7 linked regions of the Homo sapiens genome follow. The protein of the gene in region 2 purifies or fractionates together with the protein of the main gene of each other region. This does not show direct contact. Each region holds a gene or a part of one and is shown on either strand. Other genes may lie near its edges.

Region 1 (3,034 bases), on a different chromosome or scaffold from region 2:
TTTGGGAGGTCGAGGTGGGTGGATCACAAGGTCAGGAGGTCACGACCATCCTGGCTAACATGGTGAAACTCCGTCTCTACTAAAAATACAAAAAAAATTAGCTGGGCGTGGTGGTGGGTGCCTGTAGTCCCAGCTACTTGGGAAGCTGAGGCAAGAGAATGGCGTGAACCCGGGAGGTGGAGCTTGCAGTGAGCCGAGATCGCGCCACTGCACTCCAGCCTGGGTGACAGAGCAAGACTCCATCTCAAAAAAAAAAAAAAAAAAAAAAAAAAAAAAAAATGCCCGTTCATTACAAAGTGAGAAGAAACTATGTTAACATTGTTCTTACAAGAGGAGAACCAGGGCTCTGCAATTTGAAAGGACTTCAACTGTTTTTGACAGAGCCTTACTCCTTGGGTCCTCTGGAGCCCAAGATGATAGCATAAAAGATAACTTCATGACTTCCAGTCTAGGCTCGCTGAACAAGGTGGCCTGGGAAGAATAACTAGCAGTACAAGTCGTGTGGGATAATCTATTTTAATGAAACTCATTATATATATATTTACAAAAAGAATAAAGGAAAAAGACAAAAACAAAAATAGATATTACAGCTTAATAAAAAGTACAACTGAGCACTGTGGGCTGGAGGTGGGATACCCACCCGCAGCACGCCCACCCTAATGTGCCATCTGAGGGCCTGGAGAAAGGACAGTGGGAAGGAGACAGTAGGCTCAGCCCAGAGATGCCCCTGTCCTCAGGGGCTCAATGTAGTTTGACCCTGACATTAAACCTTTTATGTCCTTCCCAGTCAGGAAGGTGGCTGGGTACAGGGGTGGGGGTGAGGAGCAGAGAGAGGTACAGGGCAGGAAGGAAAAAGTAGAAGGGTCCTGAAGGGCAAATTAGGGTGGGTAACTAGGGAGTTAAACAGGAGCAAGAAGCTTCTATTTGTAATCCCAAAATCTGGCATGAGTAGAGAAGGAAGAGGAAATGGGGAAGGGGTGATGGGAAAGGGGAGCGGAGGAAGGGAGGCAATTTATTTATTTCTCCCTGTCTCTTTTGGATAGTTCCACTCTTTTATGTTAATCCCAATCTGAGACAGGCCCAGGGAGGTTCCAGTGACAAATTAGTGGTTGTGTCCCAGTGGGACAGATGCTCTAGGAAGTGAACTGCTGAGCTGGCAAGAAAAGCTGGGGTCCTCCTCAGTATGACACAGCTCCTGGCTCCCGGGGAGCAATGAAAAGGACATCAGCTTTGGCATTGATGCAGTAGGTGACGATGAGGGAGAAGATGAGGATGCCGAAGCCCACTGTCAGGGTGATCAACTGCAGGGGGAGGGAGGGCAGGAAAGGACAAAGGCATTCTCAGAACTCAGTGCAGTTTTTTGGATAACTGTTTGGGGTTTGGAGCCATGGGAATTCGGATGCTGGCTCTAAGCACCAACTATGGAATAATCATGGGCAACATCTCTCCAGCCTACAGACTTTGTCTCCCCATTTGAAAAGAGAAGTAAAGCATCTCTGTTCTTGCTTCCATCTTGTATTACTTAGATTTTAGGCATTTTGAAAGGAGGGCCCATGGCTTTGGTTCCCTTGCGGCACTTACATTACTGACTTGTGACAGGAGCTCGGTACATTAGACTGACTCATCCCAGCTGTGCCAGATGGGGAATGCCAGCCGGGAGTTGAAGCTGTGAAAGAGTTCTGGGATCCACAGGGGCTCTCCAGAATGAACACCTACTCAAACTATCTGTGAAGAAAGGCCTCCTGGCCGGGTGCAGTGGCTCACGCCTATAATCCCAGCACTTTGGGAGGCCAAGAAAGGTGGATCACCTGAGGTCAGGAGTTTAAGACTAGCCTGACCAACATGGTGAAACCCATCTCTACTAAAAATAAAAAAAAATTAGCTGGGTGTGGTGACACATGCCTGTAATCCCAGCTACTCGAAAGGCTGAGGCAGGAGAACTGCTTAAACCCAAGGGACGGAGGTTGCAGTAAGCTGAGATTGTGCCATTGCACTCCAGCTTGAGCAACAAGAATGAAACTCCATCTCAAAAAAAAGGCCTCCTAAGGGAACATGCTGGCTGACCAGGGACAGATTTGCAGTAGGCTTTTGCTACAAATGTGGGGCAAATGGGAGATGGAAAGGGCTATATGACACAAGAAAGCAGAGAAAGAAGTCAAACAGATCCCTGCCACCTATGCCCCTGCCCCATCTCACCTCAAGCTCTTTGCTGGCGATGAGAAATATCCGGGCACGGATATCTTTCCAGCGGCTCTCAGTCCATGTAGAGTATTCAGTAGAGCTCCACTGACTCAGTTCAAAGGCAGGAGACAAGGCCCTGGCTAATCGTGCAGTAGAACGCACACACCGGGGGAGTCGGTCCGTCTCATTAGAATGCAAAGGGCCCTGGACCCATGAGTACTCATACAGCTGCACAGAAGATGCGCCACAACACACGGCTAGGGTGATCCTCTTCTCACTCGTTCCCTCTACCCTCTATCAGTGCCATGCTCTAACCAATTGAGCTAACTGGCTGCTGTCCCTTTACCCTTCAGATGGTCCATTTTCACCCAGGCTTTTCAACACCCAATTGCTGAGGACTGCATCTCTCCACCTCTCCATCCCAATCCCCTGGGTCTAACTAGGTCTAGAAGAACCTCCAACTTTCCCAAGGGAAAGGGGCCCCAGGGCACTTCCAACACCCACCACCACTCACATCCTTGTTTTCACTTGGGACTTTACTTGGATCCTGGCACTGCTCTCGGGTGAGGTTGACCACTGTGCCAGTCAAATTTGCCAAGGCATACTGTACAACATAAGTGGTGTTGGTGGGGCTGGAGACAGCGATGTAATGTTGAAGAGGCCCGTCACCTGAGTGCAGACCAAAGGGAAGGGAAGATTTGGTGGGTGGATGGTGGGTGAAATAGGAAAAGCCCAAGATTGGCAGCAGCCAGAAAGAAGGGCAATGGAAAAGGATCCATCAAATATGAGAAGAAAGAAAGGAAAACAGGGGGTAAGAAAAACAGAGAGGAAAAAGAAAAAAAATAATAAAGGT
Region 2 (3,500 bases):
TTGAGACAGAGTCTCGCTGTTTCTCCCAGTCTGGAGTGCAGTGGCGCGATCTCAGCTCACTGCAAGCACCGCCTCCCAGGTTCACGCCATTCTCCTGCCTCAGCTTCCCAAGTAGCTGGGACTACAGGCACCCGCCACCACGCCCAGCTAATTTTTTGTATTTTTTAGTAGAGACGGGGTTTCACTGTGTTAGCCAGGATGGTCTCGATCTCCTGACCTCGTGATCAACCCACCTCAGCCTCCCAAAGTGCTGGGATGTTTACTTATGCTTTTAATTTAATATCTTAAAATATGATATACATATATATGTACATATGCATACATATATGGTGGTGGTGGTGTTTCATTTCACTGAAGATGAAGACTATTAAATAATTTTGGTTCTTTGTGGGATTCTTTTTGAATTAAACTGTTTTAGGCCTCATGTCACTAAACTATAATGAAGGAGGCTGTAAAAATATTGTCTCGGCTGGGCGTGGTGGCTCACACCTGTGATCCCAGCACTTTTTTGGGAGGTGGAGGTGGGTAGATCAAGAGGTCAGGAGATCAAGACCATCCTGGCCAACATGGTGAAACCCCGTCTTCCCTAAAAATAAAAAAAATTAGCCAGGCATGGTGGCATGCACCTGTAGTCCCAGCTACTCAGGAGGCTGAGGCAGGAGAATCGCTTGACCCGGGAGGTGGAGGTTGAGATTGCGCCACTGCACTCCAGCTGGGCGACAGAGCAAGACTTCATCTCAAAAAAAAAAAAATTCTCATAAAACTTGTTTTGAGGTGAGGTTCAGTGGCTCACACCTGTAATCCCAACACTTTGGGAGGCCGAGACAGGGGGATTGCTTGAGTCCACGATTTGGAGACCAGCCTGGGCAACATAGGGAAGAGACCTCATCTCTACAGTTTTTTTGTTTTGTTTTGTTTTGTTTTTAATTAGCTGTTCATGGTGGTGCACACCTGTAGTCCCAGCTACTTGGTAGGCTGAGGTGGGAGGATCACTTGAACCCAGGAGGTCAGGGCTGCAATGAGCTGTGATTACACCACTGCATTCCAGCCTGGCCAACAGAGTGTGACCCTGTCTCAAAAAGTAAAATAATAAAAAATCTTGCTGTGGGAGCTGTTACAGGGAAGCAGATGAGGATATTCTGCAATACATTTCACGGTGTCTGCTCCCCAAGATATTATGCCATGAGAAAATGAGAAAGAGAAAGAGACAGAGACAGGGTGAGAGACCTTATGTTTCAATAACAGACATAGTTCTTTTGAACTTGTTTGTGTCTTCTGGACATTATAAATAGTACCTAGGAGTTTTACCATTTAACTTTTGGTTTCTTGAAATCTCAGTGCAAGATTTGTGGCCCACCTCCAACAAGCATATAAACCTTCTGGCCTACATTTGTGTGCTAGCTTACCTATGTCTTCATCTTACCTTTTCTACCTTTTCTCACTTAAAATCTTGTTTGGTATTTGTTTTGGAGATGGGAAAAAAGCAAATAAAATTGAATCGCCATAATACATAAGGTTGTGTATCACTAAGTTGCTTTCCACTTTCTCTTAATCTGATGAATTCCAGCCCTTTGGCTTTATTCTGAGCACATTTTCCCAAAGCTGTAATTATCTCTGTAGAGTACTCCATTCTGAGAGGTCTTTCTTCACTGAGTTCACACAGGATATCTTCCCTCACTGCCTCCCACACAATGATTCTGTTAAGCTGAGGAAGTTACTAGAGAATGACAGGCTAAGTAGTGATGCTTTTATTAAGAAAGTTTCTTCCACTATTTATTGTGTTATACATTAACAGGATAATAGCTGACAAAAGATGAGAATATAAAATATTCCACATGTGTTTATAACCAGACAGTGAACTCATTTCATATTTATTGTTTGGTTTTATTTTCCTCTTTTTAATTAAAAAGGTGGTAAGCTGTGGAATGATGGTATAGATTTGTATATTTAAATAGAATTAGAGGTCTTGTCAGGGGCCTGTTTGGAATTAGCCTGTTAAGGATTACAGATCTGAACATGGGGTCAGACACTAAGTGACGTTACTGGATATCCAGACTTTTAAATCTCTTCTGTCAGAGGCCATCAAACCAGATCTAAGCGCTGGTACCTTTACCTTACCCTTCAAATTAAAATAGGCTGTCCTCACTCTTTCTGCTTGAGGCCTTATCATAGTTAGTGGTCTGTGAATTTTGTCAAGAGAGGGTCACAGGCCAAGATGCAGACTGACTTCCTTTTTACTTGTCTGGAATCTTATTACTCAGTTCCTCAATTATTTTTTACTCAATAATTGGACATTTTCCTTAGAATCCATGTTGTTCGAGGTCTCGTCCTGTAGGTAAGGTGTGTAGCTCATTGAGGCTTTGAGAATATGGAGAGAATGTTAAGAGTTTGCCCTATGGAAAAACTGCATAGGAATCCGAATATTTGAAAGTCAATTCTCTATGTATTCCTTGGAGTGTTCAGTGATACAAAAAGTCTAAATAAAACTGATATATTCTCTTTGAGTATGATGCTTGGTAAGTACACTCTGGTTCATTTTGCTTAGGATACTGTATTCTTGGGTCCAGCTGGAATATGGAACATTGAACATTCGATAATGTTTTTTGGGTAGTAGTTACAGATATCTGCTTACAGTAGCAACTGCTTACAGTAGTAACTCCTACCATTTTCTGTCTGAAACCATTATATGAACATCCAATAAAATATTTATTTCCCTAAAGCCTAAAAGGGAAGTAGGACAGGCAGAATTTATCATTTAGAGCATGAAATGTACCAATAATGATGAGTTTTAAGATGGGAAAGTATTTAAGGTACATTTCAGGTACTGCTCATGCTGAATCTATTATATCTATTTGCTGAATTCTTTCCAACATACAAACTTAGACTGTAGCTACCGCTGACCTAATGAACCTGGTTATTTATATGCTGTCTTTTTGTTCATTTGTCTGGTCAAAAGGGCCCACTCACCTTCCTGTGGGCATAGCTGGCGGGAGCAAGTCTGGTATTTCAGCTGACTTCTCCTTTTGGCTTTCTCTTCTCCTTCTCCTTTTGCTATCTTTTCTCTTCAATTCATTGAAAAATGTCTATATATAAATTACATAAATGCAATCTGCATTGCAAAATATCCCAATGAAAAGTATATATGAAATAATTTTTGGCAAACTGAGTCATGTTCTTAGTGGATATGGGTTCCTGTGATTTCAAGGAATGCTGTCCTGAACTTTTAATTTAAAAACATTCAACCTCCTAATTATTTTGCCAGTCCGTAGTTTTATGTTTAAGATTGCCCAAAATGTACTGCCTGTCCATAATTCTTTCAAGAATTATTGCTTCTGATATTAGCCATTTTAATTCTATTTACTATTTATATAGGTCCTGGGAATATACACCTTTGAATTTTTTGTTGTTGTCATTTAGCCCTTTAATTTGCTAATTCCAGGAAACAAAAATTGAACTAAGAGACATACCACTGTGTCTTTGCACTTTTTTTCTTGGTGCTT
Region 3 (3,267 bases), on a different chromosome or scaffold from region 2:
GCCATGCTGCCCCGTGGCCTTTGGTTACCAGGAGGCTGTCTGGGCAGGACAAGAGGAGCACCTATCTCAGGTCCACAGTCCGCCAACAAGCCCAGCTAATTTTTTGTCATTTTTGTAGAGATGGGGTTTCACCATGTTGCCCAGGCTGGTCTCGAACTCCTGGGCTCAAGTGATCCTCCTGCCTCAGCCTCCCAAAGTGCTGGGATTACAGGCCTGAGCCACCGCAACCGGCTTTGGGTCCACAGTCTTCACAGTTCCCAAGGCATGTTCACCTTGGTTTAGCCTTACTGTGGCCTTGTGGGTTCAGGGTTACCATCCTCATTTTACAGATAGGGACAGTAAGGCTGGCAGAGAGGCCTGTCCTGCCCCAGGTGACAATTTCTCTAGGATCCTGAGCCTTGCCCTGGTCCTACACGCCCTTGGGGACCTCCTCAGGAGGAGGAGCCAGGGGCAGTGGTGCAGAAAGACTACCCAGGTGTATGATGTCACGGACAGGCAGGGAGGTTTTGGGGGCATTTATTTCCGATAGAGACTGGCACAAGCTTTGGGCTAAGGACACCCGCCCCCACCCTCATCTAGAAACAATCTCTCTCGCCAGACTTGATGGCTCACGCCTGTAATCCCAGCATTTTGGGAGGCCGAGTCGGGCGGATCACAAGGTCAAGAGATGGAGGCCATCCTGGCCAACATGGTGAAACCCCATCTCTACTAAAAATACAAAAATGAGCTGGGCATGGTGGCGTGTGCCTGTAGTCCCAGCTACTCAGGAGGCTGAAGCAGGAAAATCGCTTGAACCCGTGAGGCAGAGGTTGCAGTGAGCCAAGATCGCGCCAGCCTGGCGACAGAGTGAGACTCCGTCTCAAAAAAAAAAAAAAAAAAATAGTAAAGAAAAGAAACAATCTCTCTCAGGGTCCAGAAGCTTCAGGGCGTGTCCCAGCTCAGGCTCTGCAGCCTGGGCCAGGGAGGAGGTGGAGGGACACGTGGGCCCCTCTGGAACCCCTCAGGAAGCCCCCTCGGCAGGAGTGCTGAACGCGAGGTGCGTGGTGTATCTTCTCACACTCCCTGCCTCCTCTGGGCCTGATAGGGAAGTGCTCCTGCAGCTGTTGAAGCTTGGGAGGGGAGGAGAGAGGGAGAGATGATGGATGCTGAAGAAAGGCTCTGGCCGAGATCCCACAGCCATTGGCTAGCATGCTCTGACCCATCGCATAGGGGAAACTGAGACTCCACTGGCTGGGCAGAATTAACCAAAGGGACTGAGGCGATTCCTTCAAACCTCACAAATCTAGCTCATTGCTCCTGCTCCCCATCACTCTCCCCCTCCACCCTCCACACCTCAGGACCCCGCTCAAACATTATCTGCCTGTCTCCCCTGATCAAAACCCACTCCCGGCTCCCATAGGCTGCAGGATACAGCCCAGTTCCTCAGCTAGGCACCTGGGGCCCCTGGCCTGGCCTGGCTGCATGCACCCCTCCTGCCCCTCCTGCCCCCACACCTCCCCACCCCCTTTTTAGTCACTCCCTCTCCCCCTCCTCCCCAAATCCCAACAGGGCTAGGTCTCCCCTTTTCTCTAGGAAGCCTTGTGGACACTCTCTGTGCCCCAGGCTCAGGCACCTGAGCTCTGTATGAAATCCTGACACCCCCCCCTTTTTTTTTTTAAATGGAGTCTCACTCTGTCACCCAGGTTGGAGTGCAGTGATGCAATCTCAGCTCACTGCAACCTCCACCTCCCAGGTTCAAGCCATTCTCCTTCCTCAGCCTCCTGAGTAGCTGGGATTACAAGCACGTGCCACCACACCCGGCTAATTTTTTGTATTTTTAGTAGAGCTGGGGTTTCACTATGTTGGCCAGGCCGGTCTTGAACTCCTGACCTCAGGTGATCTGCGGGCCTCAGCCTCCCAAAGTGCTGGGATTACAGGCGTGAGCCACCGCACCCGGCCTGTATGGCGTCTTGAGGCAATGCTCAGAGCTTGGTGTGAAAGCAATTCACCTCCTCCTTGGGCGCCTCCCCGACTGGGGTGTCCGCAGGCGGCACCCACTTGCAATCCCAGATGCTGCCACCAGGGGGTGCACAGTGCCCGCTTGGAAGGTGGGCAGGGGCGGGCGGGGAGGAACTAGAGAGGGAGGGGTTAATGCCCAAGGGCCCCGCCCCTCCCAAGAGGCATGGGCGGTCTCAGCCCGGTCCACTCACCAGGTGTATATGAGCACAGCCAGGAGGACCGTGAGGAGGACGGCCAGGAGGATAGACAGGATGGCGATGATGACCACGGTGCCCGGGCTCTGGGGGCCGGGGACAGCCCGAAGTGCCTGGGCTGAGGGCAGTGATGGGGGCCGCACAGGCGGGCAGGAAAAGAAATTTTACCTGACCGGAAGGGGCCCTTGGGCAGAATCCAGACCAATCACCGCCCTGCCTCCCCTACTACCACCCAGGCCTGGGGGAAGGGGGTGGCTGGGGGAGGGGCGCCTGCAGATTGCAAGATGGTTGGCTGCCTCTGACTCAGTGGTGAGCTGACCTGTTCCCCCAGCCCATCCTCAGTCCTCAGGACCCCCAGGCCCCAGCCCCCTGCCCCTACTGTTTGACCGGAGCCTCTGGCCCCTACCTTGCTGCAGGCGAGTGTCGCTGGACCACTTGGTTTCAGCCACGGGTCCTTCGTCATTCATCACCAGGAACTTCACCCTGAATGGGAGACCCAGCATTGGACATGGGGGTCCCCCGGAGTCCTGAAACCATCAGACTTGGTGCCTGCAAGTCTGTCCCCTGGAGTCCCAGGCCCTGGCGAGAGCAGCCCGGGGAGGGGGCCGGAGGCTGGGGCGAAAGAGCCCAACAGAATGGGTTCAAATCTAGGTGTGACATTTCCAGTGGTGTGACGTCCCTCCCCCTCTCTGGGCTTCTGTGTCCTCATTTGGGAAAGGTAGAGGGCGAGTATTAGATGTCTCAGAACTGAACATGCGTGAATCAAGCATTTAGTGAGGGGAGACCCTGTCTGGATGGAGAGACGCCACCTGAGTGGTCCACACAGCCTGTGGGGACTGGGGCTTGAGGTGGGGAACCTTCTGCTCAAGAAAAGCAGGATAGGCCAGGCATGGTGGCTCACGTCTGTAATCCCAGCACTTTGGGAGGCCAAGGTGGGCCTTCAAGATCACTTGAAGCCAGGAGTTGAGACCCGCCTGGCCAACATGGTGAAACCTCATCTCTACTAAAATTACAAAAATTAGCCAGGCATGGTGGCAGGTACCTGGCCAACATGGCGAAACCCTGTCTCTACTAA
Region 4 (2,390 bases), on a different chromosome or scaffold from region 2:
TACATATCCATGTTGTTATGTATGCATTTATTCCATTGCTTCTACCCGCTATACCTCATCGTGTACCTCTACCACATGTCATCTTCCCCCTTTTCCAAGGACAGCCACTTGGGTGGCTTCCAACTTGCCCAACAACTATTCTACAGTTATTTTATGTATGTTACTTTGGCTCCAGCTCAATTGTGAACTGCTTGTAGATAAGGACCATGTTTTTCTTTACCTGTTACTCCTGCTGATTTCCTATTAGTGCCTGTGCATGTTTTCTGCTGTAAGGTGTTAAATGTTAAAGTAAAATTAATAATAGTAGAAGTAAGGAGTTGCCAGTGGAATCTTCCTGAGCTGAATCTAATCATGGCTTTACCCCTTACTAGCTTTGTGACCTTGACCTTGGAAAAGTAAAACCTTGTTGGTCTTTCTTCATCTATCAAGGTAGGTAATACCATCTATCTTAGTGGGCTGTTATGAGGAATGAGTTAATTAACTAATACTAAGCACTCCAGTACAGTAGAAGACATACAACAGGTGTTTAATGAATAATAGGTGCAATGAATCCTACCTGCTGCTTCAAATTACAGCCATCTGTACCTGTCAACTTTTCTAAGAGTATAAGCATCTTGGAGGTAAGGTCATTTCAAATACTTCTTTATATCTGGTCATTACCCAGCACTCTGCTTTGTGTGAAATATTCTATACATTTATGTTGCTATGGTTTGGATGTTTTTGTCCCCTCCAAAATTCATGTCGAAACTTAATCCCCAAAGCAACAGTATTAAAGGATGTGGCCTTTAAGAGGTGACTGAGTAATGAATGAGATTAAATGCTCTTTTGAAAGCATTTTGCTCCTCTTTCCCTTCTGTCCCTTCCACCATGTGAGGACATACATTCCTCCACTGTGGAGGATGCAGCAATGAGGTGCCATCTTGGAAGCAGAGATCAGCCTTCACCAGACACTAATTCTGCTGGTGCATTGGTCTTGGAATTCCCAGCCTCAAGAGCCAGGAAAAACAGATTTCTGTTGTTTATAAATTACCAAATCTGTGGTATTTTGTTATAGCAGCACAAATGGACTAAGACAAATCTGTTAACTTAGATTTTAAGCATATGTGCTAAAGTATTTTAAAAGGTTATTTTATCCAAGAATATAGTATGAGTTAATACCTTTTTTGCAAGATTCATGGCAATCTTTTATTATTTATTTTTTATTTCATTCCATGTTGGAAGCAAAGTCATATCTATTAAAAAGTAAAATCACAAATTAGTCTTTGATTATTCAGAAGCATAAGAAGATTGCTGTTTTCATGTTTTCCATTTCTCCCTCCAGTGGCTTGAAAAGTACAGGTGCTCTTTTCAGTCATGTTTTGTCTTAAAGATTTTAAAATAAGAAGAGTCTGCATCCTGTAAAAGAGGGACAGAAACATGGATCAGTACCTACTCCTATTTACTCCAGTTTTTAACATTTAAGTCCTTCTGTTTTGAGGAGCTGTATCATTATGATTCACTATTAAGAATCTTTACAAAAGTTCAGAAACTGCTTAAATTAGAATTTAAAAATCATAGCCAAAATTCTAGATGTACACAAAAGTACTTCTAATGAGTTTAGCATCATCTCTGGTTTAGAGGAGGTATAAATAGCATTGGACTGCAATGCTAAATTCTCTATAATGACTTTTCTGGATCAGCATATCATACCTACACTGACTTGCCCTAATAAATAAAAACAATGAGTCAGATTATGTAGAATTGAGATATATGGAAGATAACTCTTTAAAATTATTTGTGGCCAGGCAGGCACTGTGGCTCATGCCTGTAATCCCAGCACTTTGGGAGGCCGAGGTGGGCAGATCACCTGAGGTCAGGAGTTAGAGACCAGCCTGGCAAAACCCCATCTCTACTAAAAATACAAAAATTAGCTGGGTGTGGTGGTGTGCACCTGTAATCCCAGCTACCCGGGAGGCTGAGGCAAGAGAATTGCTTGAATCCAGGAGGCGGAGGTTGCAGTGAGCTGAGACTGCGCCATTGCACTCCAGCCTGGCCAACAAGAGGGAAACTCTGTCTCAAAAAAAATAAAAAGAAAAAAAAATTATTTGTGAACTTTTTGTATATTGCTTAAGGAATAAAACAAGGCAACCTGATAATCCCCAAGATGTGATGTTTCTTTTCAGAAGATATGCATTTACCACTTTCAAAACTTTGCACTAAGAAAGACAAAATAATAATAATGATAATACAAAATTCAGTGTAGCCACTGTTCTTGATCCCTAAAAATAATAAAGATTCATAAAAACAAAGTTCCAGACATACAGACTAAAGAAGCAAATTCTAGTTAACAAGTACTATTAGCTTGAAATAAGCTATGCTAGCATTTTCTTAACTTAGACGCTTATCAATAA
Region 5 (3,500 bases), on a different chromosome or scaffold from region 2:
CAGGAAGGGAAGTGGCAGGGAGCTGCTGTCCCTCAGCACTTTGGGATCGTGGCCCCATCAACTGTGATAACTCTGGTGCAAATTTAGGTCAACTTGCCAAGAGCAAAAGCCCCTTCCTGGGTACAAGAGCTCCCAGGGGTAGCAGGGAAGCGCTTCCCAGAGATGGAGGAGGAGGGTCGCAGGAGATGACCCCTGCGTGTCTGAGTGAACCCCATGCTCTGCAATGTTAAAGACAATTTGCCTGGTCAGCTCAGCAGCCCCCACAAACCCCTCTACCCTCCTGCCCCACCCGGTCCTCTACCTGTTTCTCTCCAGCCCCAGGCTAAGAATCACTACCTCGAGCTCACGCAGGGCCTGTTCCCAGGCCCTGCAACTCTTCCGCACGCAGCTCTGGGTGCTGCTTCCTGGGTGGGAGGGCAGAGTCCAGTGGGGCGGGCCTCCAGATAAGCCTGAGGAATGTGCTGGGCCGGCTGGAGGTAGCCACTGTGGGAGCAGACGCCTTGCCCTGGCCCTGGGGTTGGGAACGCTGGCCAGTCCGTGAGGGTGGGGCCCGGGCCCCAACAGGCCACTGGGTCTGGCCAAGCCAAGCAGGCCCTCCATGTCCTGAGCATGGGCAGGAGTTAATTATAGGAGTACCAGTCAGGGCCCTGGGGCAACAAGACATGCAGGAGACAATGTGGGATACCAAGGGGAGGTAGATATGGAGCAGGAAGTGGGAGTACCAGCAGAGCCACCCCAAATCAGGCAGATCTACAGACAACAAAGACTCAGACTCAGGGGGAGGCTCAGTGTTGACCCAGTCTAACCCCTTCATTTTATAGATGGAGAAAGAAAAGTTGCCCAGAGAGGGTAAGCTACATGACTAAGGTCACACAGCAGGCCTGGGGCAGAGCCAGGGATGAAGGAGAAGGTCCAGGGTGGTGATGGAGACCAGTCTGTGGGGGGAACATCCTGCTGCCGTCTCTGGCTGCCTGCCACCACCTAAGCCTTCCCTGCCATCCATCCTCGGGGGCAGGGTTATGCCAGCAATGTGGCCCCTGTGTCTTCAGGATCAGCGGGTGGGAACGGAGCAGCATTTCTGGGGTCAGCTGGGTATCTGTGCTGCCAGAACGGGGCCCTGGGACAGGCATGCTGCTGGTTGTGCCAGCAGCTTGGCATTAATTAATGTCCTGGAGGCCTGTCTGTTGAGTGCCTAACAAGGAACAGATGGGACTACCCCAGTGGGCACACGCACAGATGGGACTACCCCAGTGGGCACACGCAAACAAGGGAGGGGCAGAGACGGTAATGCGCCCCTATCCCACTTGCACCCTGATAGCCCCTCAATTCCACTCCTGCCCATTCACTGCCTCTATCCCAGCTCCCTGGGGTCCAAGAACCTCCCACAGTTAGGCAGTCTACATTCCTCCTATAAGGTCTGGTCTGGGGTCCCCTCACTGGCAACTGATCCCCAACAGCTCTGCTACACCTGGGCTCTGGCAGCCAGAGATGGGTCAATTTTCTCAGCTCTGTCTTCACCGCCTGCCTCTGGGGCTGCCTTCTCCTCAGAGCAAGGACCAGCTCAGGAGTTCCTCTCCAAGATGATTAGCAGGCTGACCACTGGCTGTGGGTCTACAGTGTGGAAGCCCCCAGTCAGAACACGCCTACAGGAAGCCACTGGACCCCCAGGTTCATCCAACATAGCTCAGACATAGCACAGCCCGGAGTGTGAATCCAGCTGGCTGTGTGGTCCTGGGCAAGCCGCTTAAGACCCTGTGCCTTAATTTCCCCATTGGAAAAAAATGAGAATAAATCTACCTACTTTAAATGAGGAAATGAATTCATGAGGCACCTGCTTGCCCACTTGGGACACAGAGCTTCTACCCTTTTTCTTTTTCTTTTTCTTTTTTGAGACGGAGTCTCCCTCTGTCGCCCAGGCTGGAGTGCAGCGGCGCGATCTCGGCTCACTGCAACCTCTGCCTCCTGGGTTCACGCCATTCTCCTGCCTCGGCTTCCCGAGTAGCTGGAACTACAGGCTCCCACCACCATGCTCGGCTAATTTTCGGTATTTTTAGTAGAGACGGGGTTTCACCGTGTTAGCCAGGATGGTCTCGATCTCCTGACCTCATGATCCGCCCGCCTCGGCCTCCCAAAGTGCTGGGATTACAGGCGTGAGCCACTGCGCCCGGCCTTCTTTTTCTTCTTTTGAGACAGTGTCCTGCTCTGTCACCCAGGCTGGAGTGCAGGGGTGCCATCACGGCTTACGGCAGCCTCAACCACCCAGGCTCAAGTGATCCACCCACCTCAGCCTCCTGAATAGCTGGGACCGCAGGTACATACCACCATGCCCAGCTAATTTTTAAAAACTTGTTTGTAGAGATGGGGCTTTTGTTTTTTTTTTTTTTTTTTTTTGAGACGGAGTCTCACTCTATTGCCCAGGCTGGAGTGCAGTGGCCCAATCTCGGCTCATTGCAAGCTCCGCCTCCCGGGTTCACGCCATTCTCCTTCCTCAGCCTCCCGAGTAGCTGGGACTACAGGAGCCCACCACCATACCCGGCTAATTGTTTCATATTTTTAGTAAAGACGGGGTTTCACCGTGTTAGCCAGGATGGTCTCGATCTCCTGACCTTGTGATCCACCCGCCTCGGCCTTCCAACGTTCTGGGATTACAGGCGTGAGCCACTGCGCCCGGCCCCTAGAGATGGGTTTTCACCATGTTGCCCAGGCTGGTCTTGAACTCCTGGGGTCAAGTGATCCACAAGGCTCGGCCTCCCTGAGTGCTGAGATTACAGGTGTGAGCAACTGCGCCTGGCCAGAGCTTCTGCCTTGAAAACTCCAAGGGCTGTGTGTATGTATATATATATAGTTTTCTTCAAGAGTTGCTGCCCAGACAGGGCGGTGAAACCACCAGAAGCCAGCCTGCTCCTTCCCAGTGTTGCCCCACCAGGGACTGTGGCCCCAAGCTCGCAGGAGTGCTCCTGCTGCGTCTGTCCATAGGCCCCACCCCGTCCCATACCCCAGGTCCCCAGCGGGAAGAGTGACCTTCACGGGGAAGGCTGGGTGCCAAAGTCCTGCCAGCTCACTCCGGCCCTGAGTCACAGGGACCCCTGGCCACACTTAGTCCCTAATGATGTTTGCAAGAGCAAGACCTAACCTAGGACCCAAAATGGTGGGCAAAGAGGGGTTCGGAAGGGGAGGGAAAGGTCAGGGCCAATAGGTGGACCCACAAATTTGACAGGCAGTGGGGTCAAGTGGTGAGGGGGGGGCCCAGAACCAACCCACCATCCTCCAGAAGGAATGCACTGTGTTAAGCAAGCGAGGCGGCCCCCAAGCTGAGCCTGTGAAGGCCCAATAGGACAGCAAGAAGTGGAGAGCAGACCAGGCACAGTGGCTCACACCTGTAATCCCAACACTTTGGGAGGCCAAAGTGGGAGGATCACTTGGGGCCAGGAGTTCAAGACCAGATCCGGCAACATAGAGAGACCCCGTCTCTACAAAAAATGAAAAAATAAGCTGGGCAT
Region 6 (3,500 bases), on a different chromosome or scaffold from region 2:
CTGGGGGTGGGGATTAAGGGTAGGGAGAGAAATAGGAAGTTGTTTAATGGGTATAGACTTCCAGCTTTACATGAAGAAGTTCTGAAGATCTGCTACACAACAACGTGAATACACTTAACACCACTGAACTGTACATATAAAAATGGTTAAGTATTTTGTTATGTGTTTTTTTCACCAAGTTTCTAGAAAATAAATAAATGAAAATAAATAAAAACGTAGGTTTCATACTCTATCATGACTGACCATCTAAAAGATCCTCTTAAACATCAAACCTCTGCCCTAAAACGGCAGAGTTGTATGCAACAAAATCAATCAGGCAAATGGCAAAGGCTTTCTAGAAACCCTCCATCTGTGGTTTTAAAAGTAATCACATGGGAATTAAAAAACAACAACAACAAAACAGATTTGGAACTACAGATGAGAACTAATGACCACCTAATTCCAAAATGCCCTAATAAGAACAAAGCACCTTTGAACTTCTTCTGGAGCCCTTGGACCTCTAATGGAAGTCTGCGAGAGATTTCTGCCTGCCGAGGCAAATGCCACTACCAGCCCTTGCATTATCTCCAGCTCCTGTTAGTCCAGGGCCAGCTTCTGAGAATATTCCACAAGTCTAGACTAACTCATCACACCAATCTGGAGCTAAGCAGTATCTACAGAAGGCAATATTGCTTAACCTTAGCAATACAACCAGGTATCTAAGTCATCAAGAACAAAGAGACAGTAGCTTCGAATACCAAATATTCATTTCCCTGTATTATCCACTCACTGGTTTCCTTTTAAGAACCTTCATGATCCAGAATGGCCTGTGATTACTTAAACTGTTAACAAGTCAACAGAAAGTGATATGAAAGCTTGTGGCTGATTGAAAAAAAAAAAAAGTACATTTTACTTGAATACTAATACATGGGTTTTGCATGAACTGTCAAGTCTGTTCTTTTTGCAGTTGGTACAATATAACAAAATCTAATTCCTGAAGTGCTCATTTGGGGTTACATAGTTTGGCTCAAGGGACAGATGTCTTAGGGCGGAATCCTGGCTCCACTATTTACCAGCCCTATCACGCTGGGTATATTACTTAACCTCTCTAAGCCTCAGTTTCATGATCTCTAGATTAGGGTTTTATGAGAATCTGAAAATCTTAAAATCAAAAAGTTATAAAAGTGATGGTTTAGATAAGTGTATACAACTCCTTTTAGTTACAAGGAAAAGCAACATGTGGGGAAGAAAAAACTGGTGTTACTCAATGTCCTACTATAGCAGACTTCCTCATGACATCTGCACCAGAACTGAATTTTACCTGTACTTCTGACTCTCAGGTTCTCAGGTATAAAAAGTCCTATGCACTTTTTTCATATGCTTTGTAAATAGTTTTGTACTGTGTTTTGCACCTACGTCACAAATACAGCTTAAAACAAAAATTTGTGCATGAAACTATAGTACACTGGCAAAAAATTTTAAAAGTCCTAATAAAGGCTGTCAAACGTTACTCTGCCATTTAATTGCCAATTGATAGAACATGTGACTATGAAATTTAAATTGTCATAGGTTGAAACACTCTTGAAAATTTATTCGAATTTATATTTACTAGATACATAAACTATAGCTTCTCATTTATAATAAATTAAATGCCTTCCAAAAACCCACTTCACAATGAAATTATATTACAATGAAAGTTTAGGCAAACTTTCAATCAAAACTGAATGCCTGCTATTTATGTACTACAGATGTTGACAAAGGTTCTGCCCTACAGAAATTCCAGCCTAGGTGAAGAATGACACCCCTGAAATCATTTAAGTAGCTAACAAGGCAGTACACAATTAGGTGTCAAAATGAATGATGAATGATTAACAAAGACCACAAATTCAGAGGGAGCATGCAGGACTGAACAGAAATGGCGAAAGGCGGTAGGAGAGAGGCTGCTGCAGTGCCCCATGGTGAAGGCAGTGGGAGAGTGATCAAAAGAGGATGTAACAGGCACTGATGCCACTTGGTGAAGGGTCAAAACTGAATCCAGTGGGGCAGGCAGAATAATCATAGCATTAATAAAAAACTGAAAACTGGAGGTGGCGCAAGATAATTCTGCCCTGGACACATGCAGTGTGCACCAGCAGCTAGACACACACAGGGAGGAAGACAACCAACAGGCAATTGGAGAGCAGCAACTGTCAGCTAGGGCACAACCAGAACCGAGAAGTACAGAGTCACCGAAACAATGCCAGATGCTGCTTACAAGAGACCGTAGGGGAAAATTCAGCTGTAGGAAAAGGGCCTCTTGGTCTGGCAAGGCCAATCAGAGCGCTTGAGTCACATATAGGCAAGAGAGAGAACACCTAAAATATCAAGCACCTAGCAAAGATTTTATTTTCCTCCAAGAGTAATTTGGCTTATTGCTACTCTGGATAGTAACAATTAGATGAGTTTACATCTACTCCCAAAGCAATCTTGTTGGCAGATGTCTATGAGGGTCCACTGTAAGAATTAGAAGGAGGAGGAAAATGGTCATTAGCAAGAGGAAAAAAGGACACACTTTTTCCAACTACAAAACTCCAATGCTCCATCAGGCAACAGCCTTTAGTAAAAGCAGGCTACAAACGTTCATTAGTGAAGCACTTATTAAATAACATTCTATTTACAAGGCCCTAAATTAAAAGGTACCCACTCTACCCCATACAAAGGGTTAACACATCTCACTCTTAAGAAAATCACTTTCAAAAACATTTTAACATTATCGAGTAATAAGTAGGTTAAAAATAGTTTGGTTAAGAAAAAGTAAATAACACTCCTAGTCAATTTGGCTACCCTTAGAAAACTATTAGATTCTTATCTGTTTTCTTGTGGTCTTTAGTCCTATGCACTTTTCTCATATGCTTTGTAAATACTTTTGTACTGTGTTTTGCACCTATGTCACAAATACAGCTTAAAACAAAAATTTGTGCATGAAACTATAGTACACTGGCAAAAAATTTTTAAAGTCCTAATAAAGGCTGTCAAACGTTACCCTGCCATTTAATTGCCAATTAATAAAACATGTGACAATGAAATTTAAATTGTCATAAATTGAAACATTCTTGAAAACTTATTCGAATTTATATTTACTAGATACATAAACTATAGCTTCTCATTTATAATAAATGCCTTCCAAAAACCCACTTCACAATGAAATTATATTACATGATATATAATGCTTTTTTAAAAAAGGTCTTATTTGCCAGTCATAATGGGCTGCTTTATAATTCAAAAGACTACTAAAAGTATACATTTAATATATACACATACACATGTATTTTCACTATATATTTTAAAAATATATTTTCACAACTCACACACATTTTTGCTATTCTCAGTATCTAGATGTTAGCCTCAAGACAAAATCTTGCCACCAATCTAGAACTAGTTATTTGTAGTGATTATAACAACTTCTATCTCTGGAAACTCTTTCAAAGTCCTTACAAACTTTACATCACAGCCAAAACCATCTCAAAGGTACCTTTCCTCTG
Region 7 (3,500 bases), on a different chromosome or scaffold from region 2:
TCAAATAAAATATGTTAAATACTTTCCAATTTTAAGGTACAGTAAATATGAAATATAATAGCTTGCTTGCTCATTAGATGACAAAATTAATCTCTGAAAGGAACTAAGTCACACATAAGGCTCACTTTCATGTTTCTTGAAGTATACAGCCTTTCACAGTTTGATTTAAACAAAACTAGCTAGTCAGACAAATATACATTGGCAAAGCATTGCTTTAACTGCTTTATTGTTATAATCAAATGTAGACAATGGTCCTCCTTGTCTAAACTTTGCTTTAGTTATATTACATAGCATTTAAACTGTTTGGATAATAATGTTGTTGGTTTGCCTATGAGTAATATTGGAAATTAATATGGCATAAGACAGAAACTAGAAAACATTTGAACTGTTCCCTTTTTTTTATTCAGTAGGAAAATGCAATTAAATATGTTACACAAGATAAAAGGAACTTGAATGATTTAATGAAAATGCAGTACAAGAATGCAAATGAGGCTGGACATGGTGGCTCATGCCTGTAATCCCAGCACTCTAAGAGGCCAAGGTGGGCAGACTGCTTAAGCTCAGGAGTTTGAGACCAGCCTGGGCAACATGGCAAAGCCCCGACTCTATCAAAAATACAAAAAATTAGCTGGGCGTGGTGGTGCATGCCTGTAGTCCCGGCTACTCGAAAGGCTGAGATGGGAAGATTGCTTGAGCCTGGGAGACAGAGGTTGCAGTGAGCTGAGATTGTGCTCCTGCACTCCAGCCTGGGCAACAAAGCAAGATCCTGTTTCAAGAAAAAATAAAAGAAAAAAGAAAAAAATTGTTCAATATCTCAGATAGAGGCTGTATGGTGTGGCAGTAAAAGTACTGGGCTAGGAACTGAAAGAGGTTCTACATCTGCATTCTAGATCTGGCTCTTAGGTCTCATTTGCTATGCAATTTCAAGGAACTCAGACTATTCTTTCACTATTTATTGCATACCTATCGAATGAAGGTACCATGATGAAACTCTAACCATAAGAAACCCATTCTGGTGAAAGAGGGACACATGTAAATAATTTAAAAATAATGTAAAATGTACTAAGGTATAGATTATGCATAGGGGTTGTGTGAGAACTCATAAAAAGCCATCAGAAAAGGTAGGAGAGAGGATGCGGGTGTATGAGTTACACCATTTCCCTTTCATTTCATAAATTAAATGACTACATTCTAGATGCTGTAAACTGCTTCAAAATTATATAAACACTCATCATAGTTCTACAATAACTCTTCTATCTAGGGAAATATGTCACCTGTTGCTAGAATTTTGCTCTCTTTATATGTTCCCTCCAAATCATTTCTCATATTTACTTTTGAGATTCAGGCTTCCATCTTACCATGCTGTATTTCATAATGTCCTAAGCCTACAAAAGCAGGTTGTATACAAAAGCCTAGGGCCATTGTGTAAAGGAAAAGAGGTAGGGTGGACCCTTCTCAACCCTTTCCTTCTCTGCAGGGCTTTGCATTCCTAAGGATGGGCCCCTCCTCTGCTTGGGGATGTTACCTAAATCATAAAATGATATTACTCAAAGCAATGGAACTTCAAAAGCATTTCCTTCCCAGGCCCTACTATAAGATTTCTTTTGGCATAAACTGTTCATTGTAATGTATTAAGTATCAGACTTTTGATGACTTGTTATACTTAAGTCACAAAACTACAGAAAACTTTTAAGTTTTTAAAATGGATTTAAGAGCTGCATGTGGGAGTACAGGCATCAGGAACCCCCTACCCCTTCCCTCCCTTTTCCCCAGTCAGGCCTGCCCTGTCCACTTTAAAATGCAGTTATTTGGGTGATGCCCTGTTACTAACTTAACTGACAACTGCTAGTTGAAATCAACTTGTCACTGTAAACACTTTGCTTTCTTTATTTCTTTTTTTTTTTTTTTGAGATGGAGTCTCACTCTGTCGCCCAGGTTGGCGCACAGTGGCGTGACCTCAGCTCACTGCAACCTCCGCCTCTCCGGAGCTCAAGCAATTCTCGTGCCTCCGTCTCCTGAGTAGCTGGGACTACAGGTGCCCGCCACCATGCCTGACTAATTTTTGTATTTTCAGCAGACACGGGGTTTCACCATGTTGGCCAGGCTGGTCTCGAACTCCTGACCTCAGGTGATCTGCCTGAGCTGGGATTACAGGCGGGAGCCACCACACCTGGCCGAACACTTTGCTTTTCTAGTGATTATTATATCATCTTTCTCTCTTGTAGCACTTCTGGTGGGAAAGGTGCAAAAAGGAATTAACAGTAGAGATGAGTCTCTGATTCCTAAGTCCTTCTCTACCAAGACTTCCAAGTTGGACAAAAGAGGTAGAGAAAGACTTAGGAATCAAAGACTCTTATGAGTATGGTATCTACTTTCAAAACAGTCATTTCATTTTATTCACATTTAGTATGGAAACTTTATTTTTCTCAATTCAAAATTGAGATTATAATCCAAAGGAAAGCTGAATTGAAAATTTTAACAGATTAATACCAGTGCCCCAAGTGGTGTTTACCATGCCTTCACAACAACCTCATGTTCTAGGGGCCATTAGAAAATGAAGTGGCTACTGACATGGAATGGAGCTAGGGAAATGTAACTTTTTACTTCATACACTCCTAAGCCATTTGAACTTTTTTACATCAATCATGCCATTTAGAATAAAAAATTCCACTTCCTACCAATCTAAGTACAAACTTGTCACCTTGACCTTCAAGGTATTTGACAAATATGGTCCTGGATTCCTTTTCAATTTTAATCCATTACTTTCTTCTGTGAACTGTTGCCTTATACTCTTAGCAAACTATCCCACAGAACTCTCTTATCCAATTTAACTGACATCACACCATTAGGCTATTCTCCAATGTGATGGGAACAACACTTCTGGTTCCCCCTCTGTGAAGTGTGCTTATCAATGGTGACAGTGTGTTTATTCACAAACCTATTTATGCCAGTTGTGCTTATTACTGAAAGTACGTAAATACTATGTAAAGCAATGAAGTATAAATGAGAAGAGAAAAATGACAGCAGCAATTAACACTGAGTACTTACTACCTGCCAGGCACTGTTCTAAATGCTTTACATGAATTAACTCCTATAATATTCACAAGAAACCTAGAAATGGATACTACCATTATGCCTGTTTTACAAAGGCAAAAACTGAGTAACTTGTCTATGGCCTATACAACTAATAAGTGGCAAAGCAATTTGGCTCCAGAGCTCAAGTACTTAACTACTGTACTACATAGACTCTCTAGTAGTTATTTCTAAAACACCACACTGAATGCTTTCGAAAGACCAGATAAAAGTGAGCACACAAGGCCGGGTGCGTTGGCCCACGCCTCTAATCCTAGCACTTTGGGAGGCCAAGGCGGGTGGATCACCTGAGGTCGGGAGTTCCAGACCAGCCTGACCAACATGGAGAAACCCCGTCTCTACTAAAAATACAAAATTAGCCGGGCATGGTGGCACATGCCTGTAATCCCAGCTACTCGGGAGGGTGA

Evidence for each region.
Region 1: the proteins of PLXDC2 (region 2) and NCSTN purify together in Homo sapiens (co-immunoprecipitation; one study listed by IntAct). This does not show direct contact.
Region 3: the proteins of PLXDC2 (region 2) and UPK3BL1 purify together in Homo sapiens (affinity purification with mass spectrometry; 2 studies listed by BioGRID and IntAct, with this or other methods). This does not show direct contact.
Region 4: the proteins of PLXDC2 (region 2) and DHRS7 purify together in Homo sapiens (affinity purification with mass spectrometry; 2 studies listed by BioGRID and IntAct, with this or other methods). This does not show direct contact.
Region 5: the proteins of PLXDC2 (region 2) and DOK4 purify together in Homo sapiens (co-immunoprecipitation; one large-scale study listed by IntAct). This does not show direct contact.
Region 6: the proteins of PLXDC2 (region 2) and TMEM131 purify together in Homo sapiens (affinity purification with mass spectrometry; 2 studies listed by BioGRID and IntAct, with this or other methods). This does not show direct contact.
Region 7: the proteins of PLXDC2 (region 2) and SLC31A1 purify together in Homo sapiens (co-immunoprecipitation; 3 studies listed by BioGRID and IntAct, with this or other methods). This does not show direct contact.

What each region holds. Positions count from the first base shown.
Region 1 is NC_000001.11:160,356,416-160,359,449, reverse strand, and holds the end of NCSTN (nicastrin isoform 1 precursor), read right to left. Parts: intron 2,851-3,034; coding exon 2,696-2,850; intron 2,410-2,695; coding exon 2,197-2,409; intron 1,302-2,196; coding exon 1,179-1,301; 3' UTR 501-1,178; downstream 1-500. UniProt on the Homo sapiens protein: Essential subunit of the gamma-secretase complex, an endoprotease complex that catalyzes the intramembrane cleavage of integral membrane proteins such as Notch receptors and APP (amyloid-beta precursor protein).
Region 2 is NC_000010.11:19,822,932-19,826,431, forward strand, and holds part of PLXDC2 (plexin domain-containing protein 2 isoform 1 precursor), read left to right. Parts: intron 1-3,500. UniProt on the Homo sapiens protein: May play a role in tumor angiogenesis.
Region 3 is NC_000007.14:102,636,525-102,639,791, forward strand, and holds the end of UPK3BL1 (uroplakin-3b-like protein 1 precursor), read right to left. Parts: intron 2,676-3,267; coding exon 2,599-2,675; intron 2,311-2,598; coding exon 2,190-2,310; intron 1,110-2,189; coding exon 1,001-1,109; 3' UTR 501-1,000; downstream 1-500.
Region 4 is NC_000014.9:60,143,619-60,146,008, forward strand, and holds the end of DHRS7 (dehydrogenase/reductase SDR family member 7 isoform 1 precursor), read right to left. Parts: exon of another isoform or gene 1,396-2,390; coding exon 1,348-1,395; 3' UTR 501-1,347; downstream 1-500. UniProt on the Homo sapiens protein: NADPH-dependent oxidoreductase which catalyzes the reduction of a variety of compounds bearing carbonyl groups including steroids, retinoids and xenobiotics.
Region 5 is NC_000016.10:57,479,994-57,483,493, forward strand, and holds part of DOK4 (docking protein 4), read right to left. Parts: intron 397-3,500; exon of another isoform or gene 302-396; intron 1-301. UniProt on the Homo sapiens protein: DOK proteins are enzymatically inert adaptor or scaffolding proteins. They provide a docking platform for the assembly of multimolecular signaling complexes.
Region 6 is NC_000002.12:97,989,449-97,992,948, forward strand, and holds part of TMEM131 (transmembrane protein 131 precursor), read right to left. Parts: intron 1-3,500.
Region 7 is NC_000009.12:113,224,544-113,228,043, reverse strand, and holds part of SLC31A1 (high affinity copper uptake protein 1), read right to left. Parts: intron 1-3,500.